Linked DNA regions of Homo sapiens. The protein of the gene in region 2 interacts with the protein of the main gene of each other region in a pairwise test. Each region holds a gene or a part of one and is shown on either strand. Other genes may lie near its edges.

Region 1 (4,176 bases), on a different chromosome or scaffold from region 2:
CCTGGGTGACAGAGCAAGGCTCCATCTCAAAACAAAAAACAAACAAACAGAAAAAAAGTTAATAGGTCCAGAACAAGGGTGGGGTGAGACCTGGGGATGTCCTTTCATAAACTTAGTTTACAACCTGAAGGTTCAGTTCTGAAAGGGGGTGCACTTAATCCACTGATTGGATCCAATAATTGAAGTTTGGATTCATGACATCCTGTGGAAATCATTTTTTTCTGGGCCCTCTGGTCCATATTACAAGCAAATCATTGGAATGCTGCTAAATAATGTGCATATCACTGCAGCACAGAGGCCTCCGAGCTGCGTTTATCCACGCTCCTCCTTTCTCCACCTTAGGCATTACCACCGTCACTATTTTTCATCTTTATCATGCCCTTCCACAGAGGCATTCAATAATGTACCCATTGTGCAAGCAATCCGAAATCCTTTTCAGCGAGCAATAGTATTTAGTAGTGATAAAACACTAATTTGTCTACCAAGTGACATATTTATAGGAGCTGTTTACTTGGACATATTTTTATTATTTCTACTCATTTGCTAAGTACTTTCCAACGCATATTTATGAAGCACAGGCCTTTCCCCAAACAGTTGTGAAAAAATAAATCATATTATTTCTTTTATTAGTAGCAGCACGGCTTGGAAGTCCTAGTGCCCTGATTTTAGTTATTTCTGGCAAGAGCTGGAAGAATTAATAGTGACCGACCACCTACTATGTGCCAGACTCTCTGTGAAAGGCACTTTACATAAATTATCTGTTTAATTCCCCTGAGGCATATATTTTACCAACAAAGAATGTAATTCCCCTGCAACATACACTTTACCAGTAGGACAGAGACATTACCTTGTCCAAGTAACTCGGCCAGAAAGGGACTAGCAGGGTTTTGAACTTAGATCTTTTTCCTGATTCCAAAATCCCAAATCACCATTCCATTTCACCAGCACCCCTACCAACCTCTCTGGATCTAATAGCTTCTGTAAAATATAAAGTGTTTTTTGTTTTGTTTTGTTTTTTTAATGAGAGAGGATGTGTAGGTTACTGAGAATGGAACAGTTAGAGATAAACATACACAGGGTGCTAACCCTAATTTTTCTATGGGAGGTTACTCTTCAAGGGATTTACTCCCTAAGAAATCAATGGAAGGATGTTTCCCAAAGAGAAGGGCCAGTACTAGTGCTGGATCCATTCCTGGAGACAGAACTGGCTACACTGTTTGCAAGAAACAGTGCAAAATATGGGATGCTTGTTTAAAAATTAAGAACTTCAAGATGGCAACAGCAGAGCATTAAACTAAGTGCAGAGCCCTGCTAAGCATGGGGCTGTGTGACTGCACTGGTCATACCACCATGTAGCTGGGCCTGCCTGGACAGAAGAAAGCTGTCATCAGTATCCCCCATGCATCATAAGCTTATTCATAATATGAGATTGAGTGCCTATATCATGCCTGGAAAACTATTCAGTGTTTTACATAAGTTACATGATCCTAAAACAACTCTATGAAACAGATATTATTTTTCCCATTTCACGGTGGATGAAACTAAGGCTTAAAGAGACTGTTATTCATCCATTGTTATATGGCAAGTAAATGTCAAAGCTAGGACCAAGTTAGTTGAGATATAAAAAATCCTGTTCCTTGACTTTGTATCTTTGTCAGCACAGGCCCATTGTTTTCCTACAAAACTCAAACTTAAGCTGAGGCTATTATACCAAAAACTATAGAGAGGCCAAGGAAGAGCAGAGATTCAAGGGCTACTCAAAAAGTCAAATGTGCAGCAGCTGAAGTGCAGCCGTACAGCTCCAGGGCATGAGGACCTGGCAGAGAGAACTCCATCATTCATGGCAAATGTCATGGCCAATACCCAGACTCCTCCAAGACTGAAGGGTAACCCAGTGAGGTCTTTCATAAAGAGCAGCTACGTGGAACCTAAGGCATCTAACTCAGTAAAATATTGTAAATAGTCCACTAAAGTTAGGAACAAGACAAGGATGATTGTTATTGTTGCTTCTATTCTGTGTAGTACTAAAAGTCAGTTTAGCCAGTGCAATAGGACAAGAAAAAAATGATAGAAAGCATTCAGGATCACTTTGGATTAATAATATACCTAACTCTAATTTAAGGTCTATGCATCACAGAGCCTTCTCCAATGCCAAACCCCAGCACACAGAACTAGACAGTTTAAACCTTACCCAGTGCTTGCTTCAGCAGCACATACACTAAAATTGGAACAATACAAAGATGATTAGCATGGCCCCTGAAATAAATTAAAATATAAATAAATCCTGCCCAGACAACTGCATGGCAGAACACAGCAAAAACCTAGTAGGATATACATCTAAATCCCTTATCTCCCCCTGCTTCACATCTCAGGGATGCATAGGCCCTGTTTTGTTTTGTTTTTTTGAGATGGAGTCTTGTTCCGTCACCCAGACTGGAGTGCAGTAGTGTGATCTTGGCTCACTGCAACTTCCACCACCCGGGTTCAAGCGATTCTCCTGCCTCAGCCTTCTGAGTAGCTGGAACTACAGGCACCCGCCACCACGCCCGGCTAATTTTTGTATTTTTAGTAGAAATGGGGTTTCGCCATGTTGGCCAAGCTGGTCTCGAACTTCTGATTTCAAATGATCCACCCACCTCAGCCTCCCAGAGCGCTGAGATGACAGGCGTGAGCCACCACGCTCAGCCAGCCCTGCTGTTTTTTATTCAGCTTTATTTCCCCCTAAACCTCCAGTTCTCTTTAATACTAATGATATCTGCCTTCTCCAAGTTTTTGTCATTCTTTTGTAACTTCCCTGGGGGAAATCAGAAAGAGCTGAGAAGTAGATCTCTGATCCCGCTTTTTATGGTGAGCTAAGCTGAAAAGAGGTTGGGATGTGCAGCCCCTGCTGCTATCAGGGCAAAGTATGAAAAAGAATTTTGTGGAAACATTTACATATTTACAGCAGAAGGCAGCGTGCAGATGGGAAAAAATGGGTTTGGTATCAGGCAGACATGTGTCTGGATTCCCGTGCTGCCACTTATTAGCTTTATGTCCTTAACCTCACTGAGATCCCATTTACTGTCTATTAAATGGAATCATTCCCTCTGCCACAAGGCTGTCCTAAGGTCATAATGAGACATGCATCAAGGGCCTAAGGATACATAATAGAGCCTTGATTAACTCGTCTTTGGTACTACCGTAAGTACTAGTGAGAGGCTGCCCACCCAGCATCCAGTTCATCCACACACTCTCCTTTCTAGTAGAAAGGAGAACTCCCATTTTTCTTTCAGTGGCTCCAGCATGTGCTTCAGGAAAGCCTGTCCCCAGCCTCAGCTCCAGGGCTATTTCCTAGTTGGTTTGAGTCAATCACAGCAGTCCCTTTTTCTTGCCAGTTACTGTATTACACATGGGTGTATGAAGCAATTCTGCACCAATGAGATTTGAGGTGAGTCAGCTTTGGTTGGAAGTTAGTTCTGAGTTAGTCCTTTGTTAAATTAAATTTGGGGTCGGGTGTGGTGTCTCACGCCTGTAATCCAGGCACTTTGGGAGGCAGAGGCAGGTGAATCACCTGAGGTCAGGAGTTTGAGACCAGTCTGGCCAACATGGTGAAACCCCATCTCTACTAAAAATACAAAAAGAGCCGGGGATGGGGGCGCATGCTTGTAATCCCAGCTACTCGGGAGGCTGCGGCAGAATTGCTTGAACCCAGGAAGCAGAGGTTGCAGTGAGCCAAGATCATGCCACTGCACTCCAGCCTAGGTGACAGAGACTCCGTCTCAAACAAACAAACAAAAGCTAAATTTGGCCTGAGGGCTAGTCACAGTGGGTCATGCCTATAATCCCAGTTCTTTGGGAGGCTGAGGCAGGCAGATCATCTGAGGTCAGGAGTTCGAGACCAGCCATGGCCAACATGATGAAACCCCATCTCTACTAAAAATACAAAAAATTAGCCGGACATAGTGGCAGGCGCCTGTAGTCGTAGTCCCAGCTACTCAGGAGGCTGAGGCAGGAGAATCACTTGAACCCGGGAGGCAGAGGTGCAGTGAGCTGAGATCACGCCACTGCACTCCAGCCTGAGCAAGAGCAAGACTCCATCTCAAAAAGAAAAAAAAAATTGACCTGAGGAGGCTTTACTTGGGCCCTTAACAAACTGCAGCCTTAGTATGCAAACTAACTGAAAACCTAATTTAGGAG
Region 2 (7,036 bases):
TCAAGTGATTCTCCCACTTCAGCTTCCTGAGTAGCTGGAACTACAGGTGTGCACCACCACTCCTGGCTAATTTTTGTATTTGTTGGTAGAGATGTGGCTTCACCATGTTGGCCAGGGTGGTCTTGAAAACTCCGACCTCAAGTGAACTGCCCACCTCAGTGTCCCAAAGTGCTGGGCCCCCTTTTATTGTATTTTATTTTATTCTTGTTAACATTTTTTAATAGAGGCGGGGTCTCACTATGTTGCCCAGGCTGGTTTCAAACTCCTGGACTCAAGTGATCCACCTACCTCAGCCTCCCAAAGTGCTGGGATTACAGACCTGAGCCACCAAGCCTGGCCCCCAAGGGTCTTCTTATGGGCTCTGTAAACTTGACTTCAGTTCCTGAAAGCAGTCTGATCATATATGAAGATATATCATTTCAGTCAAAGCCTTGGTAAAATTACCAGTGTCTCCAATGTGGTCTGTTATGAAAGAAAACATACTCTTATTGAACTTATGCAAATAACTATATTGTCATAAAATAAGAATACTCACAAATAGCCAGGTGCGGTGGCTCACGCCTGTAAACCCAGCACTTTGGGAGGCTGTGGTGGGCGGATCAGTTGAGGTCAGGAGTTGGAGATCAGCCTGGCCAACATGGTGAAACCCCATCTTTACTAAAAATACAAAAATTGTGCTGGGCTCAGTGGCTCACGCCTGTAATCCTAGCACTTTGGGAGGCCAAAGTGGGTGGATCACGAGGTCAGAAGTTCGAGACCAGTATGACCAACATGGTGAAACCTATCTCTACTAAGAATGCAAAAATTAGCTGGGCATGGTGGTGGGCACCTGTAATCCCAGCTACTCGGGAGGCTGAGGCAGGAGAACTGCTTGAACCCCACGAGGCAGAGGTTGCAGTGAGCCAAGATTGTGCCACTGCACTCCAGCCTGGGCAACAGAGAAAGACTCCACCTCAGAAAGAAAAATTAGCCAAGCGTGGTGGCATGTACCTGTAGTCCCAGCTACTCAGGAGGCTGAGGCAGGAAAATCGCTTGAACCTAGGAGGCAGAGGTTGCAGTGAGCCGAGATCATGCCACTGCACTCCAGCCTGGGTGACAGAGCAAGACTCTGTCTAAAAAAAAAAAATTAATTTAAAAATGAAAATAAAAAAAGTAAACACAAATAGTTTGCAAATTTTGGTGAAATCAGGTAGAGAGAAAGACAAATGTTTCAATTTTGCTCACAAAAGTATCTTTTATCCAGTTGCTGTGACAAAAGAAAAAATTTTCTTGACTGAAAAACAATATAAAAAGAATCAGCAATGTTTCAAATTTTAAAAATCATAAAAATCACTTTTATCCTCTATCAGTTTAGTCCCATGTAAATAATTCTTGCTCTGCTTGATGTTGGGTTAGCAGTCTTCATGAATGCCTCAGGTTTTTATTAGAGTTCTGGAAGCTTTTGCTTAATCCAATGGTAAGATCTCTGAAGTTACCAGAAACCTGTATTCAAGAGTACTTGTCAGGGTTTTTTTCCAAAAATTTCCTTAAAGATGAAGCAAATTTTGTAGCTGATTATAAACGACTTTTTTTAAAAGAATCAAAGTAAAATAAAAATTGTCGGCTGGGTGCGGTGGCTCACGCCTGTAATCCCAGCACTTTGGGAGGCTGAGGCGGGCCGATCACGAGGTCAGGAGATCGAGACCATGGTGAAACCCTGTCTCTACTAAAAATACAAAAAAATTAGCCAGGCGTGGTGGCGGGCACCTGTAGTCCCAGCTACTTGGGAGGCTGAGGCAGGAGAATGGCATGAACCCGGGAGGTGGAGCTTGCAGTGAGCCGAGATTACGCCACTGCACTCCAGCCTGGGCGACAGAATGAGACTCTGTCTCAAAAAAAAAACAAATTGTCTGTGGATGATAAAAGGCTTAGAATAGCCACGGTCAAAGATGAAATTGACTAGGATATGTGGTTATTTGTGTGGCACACACCAGTTTATCATAATAATTATGATAATGATATACTGATAACATATACCAAGACATATCAGACTTTTAGGAATCTCATACAATTTTGGAACACATTAATAATACGCTTTTATAAATATAACTCAAAGAAAGTTAAACATCATTTCTTATTTGACAATATTTCCCATATGACTTTGACATCCCAAATAAGCCTAATGTGTCTCTTTTGGACTTCCAGGGGTCCTGGTTATGCCCAAGTTAGCTTGGGTCAAAAAGACTTAATTTAATTTTGGGAAGTATCTCAAATATTAAAGGTTTAAAACACTTGATATAGAAATAAGAAAGGTTTAAAACACATGATCAAAATAGAATCACAGGTCACTACAAAATAATGGTAATTACTTTAGCCAAAATGATTATTCAAAGATTTCAAAAAGCAAAAACCACTCTGATAGAGGAGATTCAGTTCTCAATCAAGAGACCTAATAAAGACAGCATGGGACAAACTCTCCCCAGTTACCTTTTCTTTGCCATTTATGCAAAAGTAAATACATCTTTTACCGTCTCTTATTAATTCTACATTACATTTTTATTCAAAGGAGAAAAACAAGTTTTACTTTTAGGCCAGGCACAGTGGCTCATGCCTGTAATCCTAGCCCTTTGGGAGGCCAAGGCAGGCAGATCACTTGAGCTCAGGAGTTCAAAACCAGCCTGAGCAACATGGTGAAACCCTGTCTCTACAAAAGATACAAAAATTAGCTGCGTGTGGTGGTGTGTGCCTATAGTCCCAGCTACTTGGGGGGCTGAGGCAGGAGGATTGCTTGAGCCTGGGAGGTCAAGGCTGCAGTGAGCCAAGATTGCACCACTGAACTTCATCTTGGGTGACAAAGTGAGACCCTGTCTCAAAAAAAGAAAAAAATTACTTAGGTGTTAGTATATTATCTATCATCCAATTTCAGTCAGCTTTGACTACACAAGATAAGATAATCGATAATCTCTCACCATTTTCTATTAAAGAGCAGATCAATGCTCTGATAAAACCTGGTTGTTCCAACACAGGAGCCCAGACTCTGGCCTTACATGAGTGTGCTTTTGATATTAATACTTAAGTTTTAGAAAAACTTATAAAAAATTCCTTCTTTTTTTTTTTTTTTTTTTTTTTTGAGATGGAGTTTCGCTCTTGTTGCCCAGGCTGGAGTGCAGTGGCATGAACTGCCTCACTGCAACCTCCACCTCCCAGGTACAAGCAATTTTCCTGCCTTAGCCTCCCGAGTAGCTAGGACTACAGGTGCACAACACCATGCCCAGTTAATTTTTATATTTTTAGTAGAGACGGGGTTTCACCATGTTAGCCAGGCTGGTCTCAAATTCCTGACCTCAGGTGATCCACCTGTCTCGGCCTCCTAAAGTGGTGGGATTACAGCCATGAACCACCGCGCCTGGCCATTTCCTTCTGATTTTTTTTTTTTTTTTTTTTTTGAGATTGAGTCTTGCTCTGTCACTCAGGCTGGAGTGCAATGGCGCAATCTCTGCTCACTGCAACCTCCACCTCCCAGATTCAAGTGATCTCCTGCCTCAGCCTCCTGAGTAGCTGTGATTACAGGCGTGCACCACCACACCTGGCTAATTTTTGTATTTTTAGTAGAGACGGGGTTTCTCCATGTTGGTCAGGCTGGTCTCAAACTCCTGACTTCGTGATCTGCCTGCCTCGGCCTCCCAAAGTTCTGGGATTACAGGCAGGAGCCACCACACCCTGCCATTTCCTTCTCATTTTAACCAATTTGATCACATACAAAATGTCTTTTGTGAGATTAATCTTCCACAGACCTTCTAGAATTTGCTTAAATCTTCAGTTTTGTCCTATACTTCCTTTTTATTTTGGCATTCTACCTTAGGACAAAAATTTACTTCCCTTTTCCCATTATCATTTTGACTACACAAAGTTCTCTCTCATGCAAAAGAAAAATTACTCTCTTTCAACAGTCTTTACCAAAAACACATCTGACTTTATACACTCTGTAAATAGAACTGTTTCTTTTATATCAAGTAGTTTTAATCACATATGTTAACTACAATTTTCACTCTTAGTAACCCAAATTTCCAGTGAAAAACCTAGGAAGTAAGTAATTTTTAGCTGTTTTCTACCAGCATTTGTAGATGAAAATAATTTCATAATTTCTAGAAAGATGGCTCCTCAATTTTTTTTTGTTAACAGATCGAAATATATTTAGCTTTTCTATACCATATAAATGATTCAGACGTTTTATAATGACCTATTACTTCATTTAACATAACATGATATTAAGTTACTGAAAACAATTTTTGTTTGTTTGTTTTTGAGACGGAGTTTCACTCTTGTTGCCCTGGTTGGAGTGCAATGGTGTGATCTTGGCTCACTGCAACCTCTGCCTCCTGGGTTCAAGTGATTCTCCTGCCTCAGCCTCCCGAGTAGCTGGGATTACAGGCATGCGCCACCATGCCTGGCTAATTTTGTATTTGTAGTAGAGACGGGGTTTCTCCACGTTGGTCAGGCTGTCTCGAACCCCTGACCTCAGGTTATCTGCCTGCCTTGGCCTCCCAAAGTGCTGGGATTACAGGCGTTAGCCACCGTGTCCAGCCTGAAAACAACTTTTAAAACTATGAAATGTTCATTTATAAACTTTGATCTCATTTACATTTATTTAATTTTTTCATTCTTAACAATTTTGCCTGAATAGTTCATTAAACAAAGCTAGCCACCATCAATTTATTTCTTTGCTAATCATTTCTATAGCCTGTGAATGTCATCCTCCCAAGCAGCTGGAACTTGAGGCATTCTCCACCATGCCCAGCCAGGTTTTTTGTTTTGTTTTGTTTGTTGTTTTTTGGTAAAAATGGGGTCTAGCTATGTTGCTCAGGCTGGTCTCAAACTCCTGGCCTTAAGTGATCCTCCCACCTCAGCCTCCTGAGTAGCTGGGATTACAGGTGCAAGCCACCATGCTCAGCTCTTGAATTTCATTACGTAAGGTTGACACTATGAATATTCATTTTGCATCCACATACCCACTTTCCTATCCATTCACCCATTATTCATTCATCCATCCATCATTCACCAAACATCTATTCAGCATATATTTTGGGCCATGAGTCAAAGAACAGATCAGATCCTTCCCTGACCTGGAAGAGTTCTCTGGCTGGTTGGGAAAGAAGCTAGCAGCACCTGATAATTGTTTTTTTTTGGGGGGGGGGACAGGGTCTCACTCTGTTGCCCAGGCTGGAGTGCAGTGGCATAGTGGCATGATCATGGCTCACTGCAACCTCCTGGGCTTAGGTGACCCGCCCCTGACCTCAGCCTCCCAAGTAGTTAGGACTACAGGTGCATGCCACCATGCCCAGCTAATTTTATTTTATTTTATTTTATTTTATTTTATTTTATTTTATTTTATTTTTTGTGGTAGAGGCAGAGTCTCACTATGTTGCCCAGGCTGGTCTCGAACTCCTTGGGCTCAAGTGATCCTCCTACCTCAGCCTCCCAAAGTGTTGGGATTACAGACATGAGCCACCATGCCTGACCAGCCCCTGATAATTCTGTTCAATTCAGCAAACACTTCTGGTCACACCCTGCTCCCTGTGGGGAGTGAGAACGAAGCGAGCCTGCCCTCAAGAAGCTCCTAGTCAATGGGGCAGCCAGATCTGGGCCCAGCAGCTGAGTGTAAGGCCAGCTGTAAGAAAGGCTAAGATGGAGACGAGATCACACCCTTGGGGAAGGAGAGTGCAGAGCAGACTTTGGGGAAAAAAGCAATTTCAAAAAGCAGAGATATGGAAGGTGGGAAGAGCAGGAAGCATGAACCCCACTGACCTCTCACGTAGTCCAGGGCCAGAGGGTCACAGACTCCCTGGAATGTATGTTTCATGAGGGCAGCACCTGGAACAGGGCCCAGCACATAATAGGTGCTCAGTTAATACTCCATAAGTAGATGTTCTTTCCCAGACCCCAAGCTGTTTGCCTTAAAGTCCCACTTGAAAGGCTGGAAAAGCAAGTCACAGGCAAGACTTGTCCTAGATAAAGTAAAGTGTGAGGAAGGGGTGCAAATCAAGATTAGAGGCATACCTGATGTGGACCTCCGAGGATCAGAGATGTCCTAGTCCCAGCTCATCCACCAACTTGCCATATGACTTTGGGCAAGTTACCTCACCTTCAGATGCCTCCATTGGAAAAGAATACAAGGGTAAGAGGAGGTGACCCCTGTGGGGGGCCTGTTATTTGGAAAGTGACAGTATTACGACTTTTTTCCTAACTCCCTCCTGTACAGAAACTCAGCCAAGAATGTTTAAAGCAGCTGGCAATCAAGAAGCAGCAGCACATTGACAACATAACCCAGATAGAAGATGCCACCGAGAAGCTCAAGGCAAGTGGACATTTCTTCCTCATACCCATGGAAAGACCCACATTTCCCCCCAGACAAAAGGGACCCCCAATATGGAGCCAATGAAAATAAAAACCAACTGCGAAGGGGCAGATGGTGGGGCCTGGAGCTTCTATAATTCAGGGTTCTTTAGAAAAAGAACACAAAATTACAGACAAAATTAGGTGCAAGACCATGAAGGGGCTCTGCAAGTGAGGGGCCCTGAGCTCCGGTTTCCTTTGCTTTGTGGCAAATCTCTGGTTCCTTAGTGTCATCTGCCAGTCTCTTGGAGGAATTAGCCCATTATCCCAAATTGCCTTAAACAAAGCAAAACACAGCTTAAGGAATATGCAGATATCTCTTTAATTCCACTGCCATGCTGAAAGAAAGCAAGTAGGGTAAGATCTGTTCCACAAATAGGTACTTTCTTCACTCTCCTTTCATAATGATGTTTGAGTGGATTCTCTGTGGATTTTGAATGGGAACTTGAGGCTGATGTTATTCTAAGTAACCATTTTGACATGACAAAGTTGTTGTGTTTTTAGGGCCTCAGGGGCTGGTCATTTCCCCTTGCATCCTCCGTTGCTCCCTCCCCCTTTCATCCTGTTGCTCCCTCCCCCTTTCATCCTCTGTTGCTCCCTCCTCCCCTTCATCCTCTGTTGCTCCCTCCTCGCAGTGAGGGCTGGGGTGGGAGGCCCTCCTGGG
Region 3 (7,036 bases), on a different chromosome or scaffold from region 2:
AGTAATTTAGATAAACTTTTGTATTGATAGCCTTTTCTTTTGGAGATGGGGGTCTCACTCTGTCACTCAGGCTGGAGTGCAGTGGCACAATCACAGCTCACTGCAGCCTCAAGCTCCTGGGCTCATGCCATCCTCCTGCCTCAGCCCCTGAGTAGCTGGGACAACAGGTGCATGCCACCATGCCTTGCCGAGTTTTTGTATAGATGGGGTTTCACCATGTTGCCCAGGCTGGTCTTGAACTCTGGACTGGTCTGGACTTGAGATTCAGACCAGATCTGTAAGCCACTGCACCCGGCCTTGATAGCCATTTGTTTTCATACACAGCAGCAATTAGTAGCCATTTAAGATATCTGTGCGCCAGCCTACAAGAAATACAAATGTACAGGGTAAAATCCTAGCTGGATCAAATATGAGCTTTGTAAATTTTTAAAAACTTTTTTATTGAGTTGTGGTTTATGCCTGTAATCCCAGCACTTTGAGAGGCTGAGGCAGGAGGATCCCTTGAGGCCAGGAGTTTGGCACCAGCCTGAGCAACACAGTGGGACCCTGTCTACACACACACCCCACCCCCACACACCCCAATTCACATACCACAAACAAAAAAACTCCTAGAAATCACCTTGGCTCAGGCAGCTTCTTCAGATTCCTGAGACCCCATTTCCTGGATCATCACAACCATCTCACAGGATGCAATGAAAAGAGCTGTTAAGCACTTTGTAGACTTGGCTACAAATCTGTGCAGATTTGGTTGCAAAATGTTACTACCCTGACAAGAAGCCATGAACGCAGCCGGCACTGACTCAATATACTTCTGCCAAGGTCCCACCATCAAAACTGTCTTATTGAAGTTAACTTAAGGAAATTGTTATTTCTAAACTTCATATGGTAAATGAAAAATACTGAACAAGGCAAATAAAACAAGATAAATGAATTCCAGAAATTAACATTCAGTCAGTCCTAGGTATTGTTACTTTTTAGAGCATTAAGATACATTGCTATATTGTTGATTTAGCCAAGCTAAGATCCCTATAGTCAATCAAAATAGTTAAATAATTTTTTGTTTTTCCCAAAAATCATTATTTTTTGTTTTAGGATGTTGGCAAACACTGTAATGTGTTTTTTTTTTTTTTTGAGACAGAGTTTCGCTCTTGTCGCCCAGGCTGGAGTGCAATGACACAGTCTCGGCTTACCACAACCCCCGCCTCCCAGGTTCAAGCGATTCTCCTACCTCAGCCTCCCAAGTAGCTGGGATTACAGGCATGCGCCACTAGGCCTAGCTAATTTTTTGTATTTTTAGTAGAGATGGGGTTTCTCCATGTTGGTCAGACTGGTCTTGAACTCCAGCCTCAGGTGACCCACCCACCTTGGCCTCCCAAAGTGCTGGGATTTATAAGCATGAGCCACCATGCCCAGCCTGTAATGTAATTTATAAATACAGTAATGTAATTTATAAATAAAATGTCAACACAGAATACTAATTTCTTGTAGAAAATGTAGAAAATAGGCTGGGTGTGGTGGCTCACGCCTGTAATCCCAGCACTTTCGGAGGCCAAGGCAGGCGGATCACTTGAGGTCAGGAGTTCAAGATCAGCCTGGCTAACATGGTAAAACCCCGTCTCTACTAAAAATACAAAAATTAGCTGGGCGTGGTGGCACATGCCTGTAATCCGAGTTACTCGGGAGGCTGAGGCAGGAGAATTGCTTGAACCGGGAGGCGGAGGTTGCAGTGAACCGAGATCACACCACTGCACTCCAACCTGGGTGACAGAGCAAGACTCCATCTCAAAAGAAGAAAAAGAAAATGTAGAAAATATTTGATTTAAGTGACCTCCTAAAATTTAGAAATACCTAGGAAACATACAACTTCTCAAGATGCAGCAAAATTTACAAAATCATTTTTCAAAGTATCTCGATATAAACAACTCTCAGTTCCAATTTCAACTGGCTTGTCTTTAAAATATGATACTTGATGGCAAAGAATGGGATCTTTTAAGAGTTCTATAGTTTGGATCTATTTGAGAGTGCTGGATTGAACAAATGCAGCCCACAGAATTTAAAATGCAGACACTTGAATGTATAGGATCACCCAAAACAGAGAATTCTGAAGTCTTACGCCAGGGGTTGTTGAAAGGGAAATTCTCTTTTATAGGATTTTTTTCTTTATTCTCGTTTGAAGCAGTGTCTTTGTCTTCCAATGCCCGAGCAAGCATGTAGCTAACTTTTCTTTGATGAGCCAAAGCTTCTTCTTTATCATTAAGCTGCATGCACAGAAATTAAACATGTACAAGTTAGTCAATAAATCACAGAATATATTCAGAGAAAGGAGTATTGTACTATTTTATCAAGTTATTCAACCCTAATATTCATACTGATCTGTCCATCAGTATGAATAAATTAGGTATCACCTGATCCCCAAACATTATACTACATGTTATTCATGAATCTTTTTTTTTTTTTTTTTGAGACGGAGTCTGGCTCTGTCACCCAGGCTGGAGTGCAGTGGCACTATCTCCACTCACTGCAAGCTCTGCCTCCCAGGTTCACACTATTCTCCTGCCTCAGCCTCCCAAGTAGCTGGGACCACAGGTGCCCGCCACCACACCCAGCTAATTTTTTGCATTTTTTAGTAGAGACGGGGTTTCACTGTGTTTGCCAGGATGGTCTGAATCTCCTGACCTTGTGATCAGCCCACCTTGGCCTCCCAAAGTGCTGGGATTACAGGCGTGAGCCACCGTGCCCGGCCAATTCTTTTTTTTTTTAAGACAGGGTCTGGCTCTGTTGCCCAGGCTGGAATGCAGTGATGCCATCTTGGCTCACTGCAGCCTCTGCCTCCCAGGCTCAAGTGATTCTTGGGCCTCACCCTCCCGAGTAGAGTAGCTGGGACTATAGGCGTGCACCACCACACCTTGCTAATTTTTGTAGGCTGGTCTCGAACTCCTGGCCTCAAGTGATCCACTCGCCTCGGCCTCCCAAAGTGCTGGAATTACAGATGTGTGCCACCATGCCAGGCTGACAATTTTTTTTTTTTTTTGAGACAGAGTCTCGCTCTGTCACCCAGGTTGGAGTGCAGTTGCATGATCTTGGCTCACTGCAAGCTCCGCTCTCCTGGGTTCACACCATTCTCCTGTCTCAGCCTCCCATGTAGCTAGGGACTACAGGTGCCAGCCACCACACCTGGCTAATTTTTTGTATTTTTAGTAGAGACAGTTTCACCGTGTTAGTCAGGATGGTCTCGATCTCCTGACCTCATGATCCACCCGCCTCGGCTTCCCAAAGTGCTGGGATTACAGGCATGAGCCACTGTGCCCAGCCCCGACGATTATTTTTTAAAAATAATTTTTTAAAAAAAAAAACAGAAGACAGCATTGAAAATTTTGCAAGTCATCTGGAAATGAAGGGAAAATATAGATCTATATGAAGTGTGTATATATAGGTATATAATATCAACATATAAAAAATATATCAACGTGCATATTTATAAAATAATGTTGAAGTTATTTGTATATAAAATTGCTTTCATATATTTGTATGCAAATATATAACAGTCTAGAGATAAGTATGTTCATATAACCTGAGTCTCAGTGTCTTAGTTTAGTCATTCCATGTGGAATGTGGGTAGCAGGACTGTAAAGGATATAATGTGTGAGGAAATGCCTTGAACACTTTAAAAATGCCTCAATAAACAGGCAGACTTGTCACAAACTGTATATATATAAATGTAGATGGCAAAGCTGGCTGGAGTTAACTACAGGAGCCCCCTGTTTTCCAAGATGGAGCCTTTAAACCTGCACAGAAAGAATATGAATGACGAGAAAAGATGAGCTGAGGGAGATAAAGATCATGAAGGTAGAGTCTGGTACTCCAACTGGGAAAAGGACATAGAAGGCAAGTGCAAGTCTAGAGAGATAAAGAGTTGAATTAACAGGAAGCAAATAGATTAGCTTAACCTAGGGGTGTCCAATCTTTTGGCTTCCCTGGGCCACACTGGAAGAAGAAGAATTGTCTTGGGCCACACATAAAATACACTAACACTGGCTGGGCATGGTGGGTCACGCCTGTAATCCCAGCACTTTGGGATGCCGAGGTGGGCAGATCACTTGAGGTCAGGAGTTTGAGACCAGCCTGGCCAACATGGTGAAATCCTGTCTCTACTAAAAACGCACACACAAAATTAGCCAGGCGTGGTGGTGGGCGCCTGCAGTCCCAGCTACTCTAGAGGCTGAGGCAGGAGAATTGCTTGAACCCGGGAGGTGGAGGTTGCAGTGAGCCGAGATCGCGCCGCTGCACTCCAGCCTGGGTGACAGAGACTCTGTCTCAAAAACCAAACAAACAAAAAAACCAAAAAACAAACAAAACAAAAAAATACACTAACACTAATGATAGCTGATGAACTAAAAAAATATATATATATATCAAAAAGATCTCATAATGTTTTAAGAAAGTTTACGAATTTGTGTTGGGCCACATTCAAAGCTGTTCTGGGCTGCATGCTCCCCACGGACCGTGGGTTGGACAAGCTTGGCTTAACCATAACCTGCAAAAAAAAGCAAAGACACTAACCAAATCTATGAGCATCTTAAGGACCTCTTGAGGACTGTCCTGGTCTTCCATCCTCTTAGAACTGTTTTCTGAAGGGAGCATACCCAACAGTCTCTGCCCGAAGGTCTTCTTACTCCTTGGTGATGGAAATCCTAAAATTGAACATGAGAATCCAGCTGAGACATTAAAATATCCTCACTGATATACTTCCAGCAAAAGAGGTAACTTGATCTCTAGGACAAGTGAGTCCAGGAGCACACAGTGGAATGTAGTGAGCAGAGCACAGCCTTCAGAGCCAGGAGCAATGCAGGTGAGAGGCAGCAAGAGTGCCGCCCTGCCATGCGGCACAGCCACCCCTCTGTGCCAGCTGACACACAGGCCACACAAGAACACAGTCCATGTCACTGGATCATCACAGTCTTCAAGAGCAGCCAGAAATGCAGATCTGTCATGACATCTTCCAATTCTAAATGTCAGCCACTAGTCTTATTGTTTGACTACACTAAGCCAACCTAACAAAACATGTCTGCAGGCCACAGGGGGCCTCTGAGCCATGCAAACTCTGCTTCCGAACAGCAAAGACCTGGACTTGAATCCTCATTCAGCCACTTACTAACTGTATGACCTCGGGTGACTTTTCTCAGCTTGATTTCCTCATCTCTAAAATGAGAATAGCATTACCTTCTTCTCAGGGAACTGTGCCATTAAATAATAAATCACACGGGCTGGAGAAGGGGAAGTGAGGAGTTACTGTTTCATGGGACAGGGTCTCTGTAAAGAAAGATGAAAATGTTCTGGAGCTGGATGGTGATGAAGGTTACATTACAATGTGAATATACTTAATACCACTTAAAAACAGTTCAAATGGTAAACTATATATATATATATATATATATATATATATATATATATATATATAATTTTTTTTTTTTTTTAGATGGAGTCTTGTTCTGTCACCCAGGCTGGAGTGCAGTGGCGCAATCTCGGCTCACTGCAAGCTCCGCCTCCCGGGTTCGCGCCATTCTCCTGCCTCAGCCTCCCGAGTAGCTGGGACTACAGGCGCCCGCCACCACGTCCGGCTAATTTTTTTGTATTTTTAGTAGAGATGGGGTTTCACTGTGTTAGCCAGGATGGTCTCGATCTCCTGACCTCATGATTCGCCCCCTCTTGGCCTCCCAAAATGCTGGGATTACAGGCGTGAGCCACCGCGCCCGGCCAACTTTAGATATATTTTACCACCATCACGACAACAACAAAAAATACCACAATTGTCAAAGGCCCTGCTCAGGTATTAGCATAATATTTAATATTTCACGTGCTGACATCATTGATGTCCTTCTTCATCCATTGAAGGAAAGTAATTTGCAGAAGTTATAAAATCTCAGATTGTACAAGGAAAATTTCAAGAATGTTTTTGGAATATTCTCCAAAAGTGGTTTAGTGGGAAACTGAGAGCAGATGAGGGGAGATCCCCTTCCCACCAATCCTGACAGACCACAGTGACGAGGGCGGCCCTGACCCCTTCCACGAGGAGCTGTGGCAAACAGAAGTCAGAGAAACTGACACTTTGATGAGTAGATGAATCTGTGTCCCTATTTTCAGTCTAAAAAAAGAAATAGCTTGGTGTGATGGCTCAAGCTGGTAGTCTGGAGGATTGCTTAAGCCCAGGAGTTTAAGATAAAAAAAAAAAAAAAAAAACCCAAAAGCAAAAATACAAAGAAAGAAAGAAGTATGCCTATAAACTACTTCCGGAAACTTGTCTAAACTGCCATATCAAAAAGAAAGTTGATATTAAGTGTTACTAAACATAAAATAATCTGTATCACCCTGTACCTCTTAAGATTACTGAAATATACTAATAAAATGAATTAAAGTCTTGTCACTGAGAAACTGAGAAAGAACTACTCAAACTTGTATAGATTTATAAAAGCTGTGCGAGATTAATCAATTTTTTTTTTTTTTTTTGAGATGGAGTCTCGCTTTTGTCGCCCAGGCTGGAGTGCAACAGCGCAATCTTGGCTCACCACAACCTCTGCCTCCCGGGTTCAAACATTTCTCCTGCCTCAGCCTCCCGAGTAGCTGGGATTACAGGCTTGTGCCACCACACCCAGCCAATTTTGTATTTTTAGTAGAGACAGGGTTTCTCCATGTTGGTCAGGCTGGTCTCAAATTCCCGACCTCAAGTGATCCACCCACCTCAGCCTCCCAAAGTCCTGAGATTACAGGCGTGCCACTGCACCCGGCCATCAGTTTTTGGTGGTTTTTTTTTTTTGAGACAGGGTCTTGCTCCATCACCCAGGCTGGACTGCAGTGGTGGGATCATGACTCACTGCAGCCTCAGCCTCCCAGGCTCAAGCGATCCTCCCACTTCAGCCTCCCTAGTAGCTGAGACCACAGGTATCTACCACCACACTTGGCTATTTTTTTTTTTTTAATAGAGACAGGGTCTCCCTATGTTGCCCAGCCTGGTCTCAAACTCCTGAGCTCAAGCAATCCT
Region 4 (7,036 bases), on a different chromosome or scaffold from region 2:
TACTCAGGAGGCTGAGGAAGGAGAATCCCTTGAACCCAGGAGGCAGAGCTTGCAGTGAGCTGAGATCTCGACACTGCACTCCAGCCTGGGCGACAGAGCAAGACTCTGTCTCAAAAAATAATAATAATAAATAAAACAAAATAAAATAAACATACTTTTTTCTAAAGATTTTTTTATTCCAAGATTATCTTTTAGCTTTGATAATGTAATACAATGCTGATTCTTTTTGCCTCTTGTCTTTGGATAGTCATTGAATGTGAAGCCTCAGCTTTGTAACTTAATATCTTACATTAATTAGCTGCAAAGGTTAGTCATTTGAACAATGCCCATTCAGATTTAACATATGTATTTATTTTAGTAAATTTAAGTTAAATACAAAAATAAGCAACTAATGAAGTTATCAGATTTCTGATTTTCAAATACATGTAGGGGATAGCTCTTTCCCCAAGAGTAGAACTCTAGTTTCAGAAGCACATTCTTTTGAGCATTCATTGACCAGAATTGCTGGCCTGTAGAACTTGGTAGTGGCTACTACTGACAGCCATGCTAAAAGGGGACCACCCAAGTTTTATGTTTCTTAAAGACAAGGGCTTGGCACAGATTGTTGCCAGTGCTTCTCTTACTTAAAGTGGAAAGCGACACAGTGGTCTGTGGAAATTGCTTCAAGGGATGGTCCTGCTGAAATAGATGAGTTGCCTGCCTCTCCAAAAGCCTCTATTATAGAAAAGTTGGTGATTGTTTTGGAGAAATTTGAACTGTAGATGAAGAAAAAAGCATAGATTGTAGTTTACTTTATAAATTTAAAGCTGCTATAAAATTCCTGACTTGTTGAAAACATGTTTCTCAAGCAGTTATGTTCAATAGCTAATTGAGAATCTCTAGAGTGATAGAGTTTGGGTTTTGTGTTACAGTTTCAGTTGTGCACAGACACTTGCTAAACCTCCAAATGTAGGAAAATACGAGGTATTTAAAGGGGATTCGTAGTACTTGGGCACAAGCATGGAGAGGAGTAACAGTGAATTTTGGATCTTCTAATAATGTGGAGAGGGACAAATAAACGTTTTTTTTATGGCTTTGATCCTTTCAAAGGGAAGCTGGGAAGGGAAGGCACAGAACAGCCAAAGCCTTGGGCCCTGTTGACACAGACCACCCTTCAGCTTCTCTATCTGGTTGTTCAAAAGCCAGCGAGTTAAAGTTAAGTTCCTTTGAAGGCAGAGAATGTGTTTTTGGGGATGATCTTCAATAACAGGAAAATTAAATCATAAGCATTCAATAGTTTAGATTATGATGATAAAGGGAGTCTTATTAATTTCTATGATTTGAAATCTCCTTCAAAAGATGAGTAGTTTATTTTCTCTTTGTTGACAGAAATCAAATTGAGTTGTTGAGTGTGGGCCTGTTGCAGCTGTCAGATATTTTGTGTAGTGTTAAGCTGATTGTAGGTGAGAATGTTTTAATCTGATCCCTTTTCCTGTTTTTGATATTTTTAAGGTGAAAGACTTGGTCGCCAGGATACATGGAAAATGGCAGGAAATAATCCAGAACTGTCGGCCTACTCAGGTGTCATTTTGTTATACAATTTCATGTATTCTTAATAGTTTTGCTGAATGGCACTCTTCATACTGTTTGAAATAAAATAGGGTATAACAGTGCACTTGCTTCTAGTTATCTTAAGATAAACTGAAAACGCCAGTATAATACATGGTTTGTAATTTTTTTAGTTTTCGTTTGCTTTATATTCATTAATTTATTTCCAGAAGTGGTTGAGCCCATTTAAAAATATTGCATTGCATCAAATGGAGGTTATTCAATTAAGAGCATTTTTAAGACAGATCTATTGAGATAGAATTCACATACCATAGATTTTACCCACTTAACGTGTACAGTGGTTTTTATTACATTGACAGAGTGAATAACATCACCATAGTCTAATTTTAGAACATTTTCATCACCCCAAAAAGAAATCCCATACCCATTAGCAGTCATTCATTCCCCTTTCCTCTACTACCTTGGTTCCCCTCCTGACTCCTCCCAAATCCTAGGCAAACACTAATCTACTTTCTGTCCCTATACATTTCCCTATTCTGGACATCGGTAAATGAGATATACTATGTAATCTTTTGTAATTGGCTGTTTTCAGTTAATATAATAATAAGTGAATCCATGTTATAGCATGTACATCCCTTCTATTGCCAAATAATTTTCCACTGTATGGATATGTCACATTTATTTATCTACTTATCAGACATTTGTATTGTTTTCACATTCTGGCTATTACAAATAATATTTCCATGAACATTTGTATGCAAGTTTTTATGTGAATATGTGTTCTCAAATGAAACATTTGAAAAGGAAGTCAAATTGCTGGGCCATATGGTAATTCTATGTTAAGTGTTTTAAGAAACTACCAGACTGTTTTCCAAAGTGACTGCATCATTTTATATTCCCACCAGAATGTCTGAGGTTTCTAATTTCTCCATATTCTCACCAACACTTGTTTTTACTAAAGCCATAGTAGGGAGTAGGGAAGTAGAATCTCATTGTGGTTTTAGTTTGCATTTCCCTAATGATTAATGGTGTTAAACATCTTCTCATATGCCTATTGGTCATTTGTATAGCTTTTTTGCAGAAATGTCTATTCAGATCCTTTGCCCATTTTTTTCATCCCATACTTCATTTCAAAAAGCCTATTTTTGAATATAGTTATTTGTCTTTTTATTATTGAGTTGTATGTTCTGGATACAAATCCCTTATTAGAGATATAATTTGTAAATATTTTCTTCCATTCTGTGTGTTGCCTTTCCTTTATTTTTATTTATTATGTATATATTTTTGACACTTTTTTTTGATGTTATATCTAAGGAGTCTTTGCCTAAGAGGGACATTTTTTTTAACACCTGCTAGTAAGTGTGCCAGCCTGCTTGTTTACAGAGTAACTGGCATAGGATTGTCTAAAATGACGCTTCTCAAATTTTAATGTACATAGGAATCAACTAGGAACTTGGTGAAATATGGATTCTGACTCATAGGTCTGGAGTGAGAACTGAGATATTCTGTACTTCTTTTTTTTTTTTTTTTTTTTTTTTTTTTTGAGACGGAGTCTTGCTCTGTCACCCAGCCTGGAGTGCAGTGGTGCAATCTCGGCTCACTGCAAGCTCTGCCTCCTGGGTTCACGCCATTCTCCTGCCTCAGCCTCCTCAGTAGCTGGGATTACAGGCGCCTGCCACCACACCTGGCTAATTTTTTTGTATTTTTTAGTAGAGACAGGTTTCACCGTGTTAGCCAGGATGGTCTGGATCTCCTGACCTCGTGATCCGCCCGCCTCGGCCTGCCAGAGTGCTGGGATTACAGGCATGAGCCACCGCGCCTGGCTGATATTCTGTAGTTCTAGCAAGTTATCAGATTGATGCCAATGCTGCTGCTTCAGGGACTAAACTTTGAGTAGCCAGGGCCTAGAAGTTGCTTATATTTTATATCAAAATAATAGGAACACTGAATGTTAAGTAGATAAAGCAATCTCTCTATTTTAAGTCTTTGAGAAATCTTATATTTATGTTTTGTTGTTTTTGTATTTGTTTCTAACCTTAATAGATTTTCTTTTAATGCTGGTCATGTACTGATGTGGTATTAAAACAGAAAATAATTTAATAGCAAAACTATACTAATCAGCTTAACATTATTTAATCTGCTTAACTAAGCCCCTCCATGTGTGCAGTGGTGAGAAAAACATCCTGCACTTATTTTTTACTGTTTTTTGTTGTTTGACTACTGAATGTGAAATTTGAATCTGATTACCATAAATTTTCAGAGAAGTCAATATAAAGATTTTATTACTTGTCTTATCAAAGCCCATTGTCTGATGATTAGTAGTTTTATAAGGATTAATTCATAATATGATTAAATTTTGCTTTACCCTCTTTTTTCTCCTTCCCTTTTTTAGGGGCAGCTTCATGACTTCTGGGTACCAGATTCTTAATAGGAGTTGCAGCAGCAAAAATATGAACCAAGAGAAATTCAATAAGAGCCTTTCATAGAGGAGTAGAAAGGATTATTACAGAATCCAATGAATGCCAAGAAAATGTACAGCAAATGTGCCACTTGAATATCTAGTATGAAGCTGGTAATGAAGAAATTGCCATTTCTGAAGCAGATATGAAATATGATCTGCTTAATTGTTAAGGCAACTGACCTTTCAAAAGTGCAGAGTCTTATTAAAAGAGGGGAGGGGTAGAAGCAGAATAATAGTCATATGTCTAACCTGCCCCAGTTAACTCCTCTTGTTAAATTATAAGCCAGTTATCTTTTTTAGATAGTATTTTTGTCACTTGGATAATCACAGGAAATATATAAGAAAAGAGCTTGGACTAACTTGAGAAGTTGGACATGGAAAGCAAGACCAAGTTCCAGTTGGGTTTAATTTTCCCTCTTGGTTATTTTCGGACACAAAGGGAATGCTTAAAACTGAGTTTAGTAATAAAAAGCATAAATCTCTTCTGTAACTTTTATAAACCACAGGGAGGTTTCAATCCATGCATTTTCCTTCATTACTCAAGATTATAAATCTGTTTTTAAAATACATCTAAACAAACAGTTGAGAAACAAAAGTTTGGCATGTTGTCAGATCCCCTTAAGAGGAAGAGGTTAAGCTGTAAAGTAGTGGCCCTGTTTTGATGCCAGAACATTCATATGCTGTTTGTTCTGGATTTCTTTTAAATGCATGTATTTTAAATACTGGTTAAATCTTAGAATCTTGGCTATATCTTAGAATTCTGGCTCTTGGTAACCATATTACAGAAGTCTATATTGTAAAAGCCTAAAGATCTGGACAAGTTTCCAACAACCTTGTTTCCATGAGTATATAATTTTGGCAGACACCTGAATTCTTTGGGACACTGTGTCTGTGTATGTGTGTGTGTGTGTGTGTGTGTGTGTGCGCTTGTATCTTGAAGTTGTTGCACTTCAAAACCACAGCTGCTGTAAATTCTTAAACACTGGAGAGCCATCCTTTGGTTTAAATGGTAGAGGGTTAGTGGAAGTGCACACGTTGTTTTTAGCCCAGGGGTAGTAACAAACTCTTACTAGCCAACTAGAAAATTATTTTGTTGACGAGATGTCCCTTTTAGGAGGGTTTGTTTCCTGAAAGAATGCCAACTTTTTTTGTTGTTCTTTCAGTATTGGCTTGAGTGACCTGTTCTCCTGAGTGCTCTAGTGTCTCCAGTTGTGGGGGGGAAAGATGATGGAGGGGAACAGAAACTGGACTTGATGTTTGCGGTTTGAGAGGCAAGAAAATAAAATAACTTTCTACCTCTAAATTGAGGCTTAGGAGTAAAAAGCATTTTGTCCTAAATTTATCATTTAAAATAGCATCAGTAACTTTTGAGCTCATGTCAATCAAGCATTGGCAGTCAGAGATTTTATAGGGAAGACTAAGTAAATCCAGTTTCCAAGAACCTAAACTGATTGAGGCTCCAAGAGTCAGACCAACAAAAGTTTTATTCTGTGTTGTTTACTGGTAAGAATATTATTATCTTGATACTACCTCTCAAGGGTATTGTTACAAAATGCCACTTATGGTTAAAGAGATAGATACAAAGAGTTCTATTTGACAGAAGCTTGAAACTCTGGCATCTATCTGCCCAACGATGGGGGCTTTCGTTCTGTAATTTAATCCTTTGTAGATACATTATTTGTGTGTAATTTTATACGTGTTCATATTTTTCTCATTTTGCATTGTGTAAAGTGTACAAAATCTCAAAGTATAAAATACTGCTTATATTGCTTGTAATTTACAGTGTGTAAATATTTTCTAATTGTGTACATTGATGGGGGGGACAAGTGGGTTATTCAGGTTTTTTTTTAATGACCCTTTTGTATTGCAGTTTCAACAGATAACTGTCCATCAAATTTAAAACCACTTTGATACATTTTTATTTAACAGTTCCAATAAGAAAAAAATCTCTATTTTTAATTATATTTCTCCTTTAGAAAAAAAATACTTCATGGTCCCTCTAAAATAAATGGCCAGACCTCAGTTTAGGCCCTTGTATTTATGACTCTGGTAGAGGTCTTCAGACTCCAGGTCATAGTCCAGTCAGTATTTGCATTTGGGTTCTCATGAAAACTTTGTGACTCTCTTTTAGCACAAGTAGCCCATGGTTTTTCTTCCAAATCAAGTATTTTACTTCTCCCTTGAGTCCCCATGCTTTGTCTCCCTCCTGCTGCTATTGCCCGGTGAATGGGATGGTAGAGAGGGAGAAATGTTCATTGCACAGAGAATGTCAGGCCACTTTGGGGACTTGGCAAACGAAGCTTGCACTGAGTGGTGGTGTGTTTGGCAATATTACTGTGCCAAAAATCACCTTGTCTAATTTTATGGATATGTATGGCAAACTTATTACCCTTCTTGCAAGCTGCACATTAAGGTACTTGTAAGTGTTTATGCTTTTGTGTGTAACTGTTTGCCTTTTCTAACTGCTTTTCTTGTTACTGAAAATATAATTCTACTAGTTTTATCACATTAAGAGGCTCTCCATGCACAAAATGCATTGATGTAGCCGTAAAGTAACAGCATTTGTACATTTTCTATCTCCTGATGGCAGTGGTGCCTTTGTCACCTTTTGGAAGGTTTGCATTTTGTTTCTGCTTTCAAGCGCAAATAGTAGCTTGCTTTCAGCTTCACAAAAATCTCCTCAAATGTAAAAGATACAAAATGGCGTGTTATCATCCAGGCTTAGTTGGAGTATTTGCATTTTTATTTTTATCAAAACAAATATAATTGGTGGGGACTGGCCAGTAATAATGTGTGGCGTCTTTAAGCCAAGAGTAATTTTTAAATTAAAAATGAAAATTTTAAGAGGTAGCCCATTAAACAAGCTACTGAGTTGGAGAATTAGGGGATGACTGTGGTGGTTTGTCGCTAAGGAGGCAACAGTAGGGTCCAGGCGGCGGGGCACGTAGAGCAGTTAGCATGATCCATGGTTATTCCTTACTCATGAACAGTGTCGGCGCACCTCATTATCTGTGCATTTGTTTTTCC

Evidence for each region.
Region 1: the proteins of TRIM14 (region 2) and RAD51D interact in binary tests that used the Homo sapiens proteins (3 or more experiments, as listed by UniProt).
Region 3: the proteins of TRIM14 (region 2) and CCDC125 interact in binary tests that used the Homo sapiens proteins (3 or more experiments, as listed by UniProt).
Region 4: the proteins of TRIM14 (region 2) and SLF2 interact in binary tests that used the Homo sapiens proteins (3 or more experiments, as listed by UniProt).

The regions. Positions count from the first base shown.
Region 1 is NC_000017.11:35,091,715-35,095,890, forward strand, and holds the end of RAD51D (DNA repair protein RAD51 homolog 4), read right to left. Parts: 3' UTR 507-4,176; downstream 1-506. UniProt on the Homo sapiens protein: Involved in the homologous recombination repair (HRR) pathway of double-stranded DNA breaks arising during DNA replication or induced by DNA-damaging agents. Bind to single-stranded DNA (ssDNA) and has DNA-dependent ATPase activity.
Region 2 is NC_000009.12:98,109,187-98,116,222, reverse strand, and holds part of TRIM14 (tripartite motif-containing protein 14), read left to right. Parts: intron 1-4,525; exon of another isoform or gene 4,526-6,097; coding exon of another isoform or gene 6,098-6,154; intron 6,155-6,238; coding exon 6,239-6,334; intron 6,335-7,036.
Region 3 is NC_000005.10:69,280,777-69,287,812, forward strand, and holds part of CCDC125 (coiled-coil domain-containing protein 125), read right to left. Parts: intron 4,692-7,036; coding exon 4,561-4,691; intron 2,259-4,560; coding exon 1,953-2,258; 3' UTR 363-1,952; coding exon of another isoform or gene 331-362; 3' UTR 1-330. UniProt on the Homo sapiens protein: May be involved in the regulation of cell migration.
Region 4 is NC_000010.11:100,957,937-100,964,972, forward strand, and holds part of SLF2 (SMC5-SMC6 complex localization factor protein 2), read left to right. Parts: intron 1-1,491; coding exon 1,492-1,560; coding exon of another isoform or gene 1,561-1,635; exon of another isoform or gene 1,636-1,652; intron 1,653-3,940; coding exon 3,941-3,976; 3' UTR 3,977-7,036. UniProt on the Homo sapiens protein: Plays a role in the DNA damage response (DDR) pathway by regulating postreplication repair of UV-damaged DNA and genomic stability maintenance.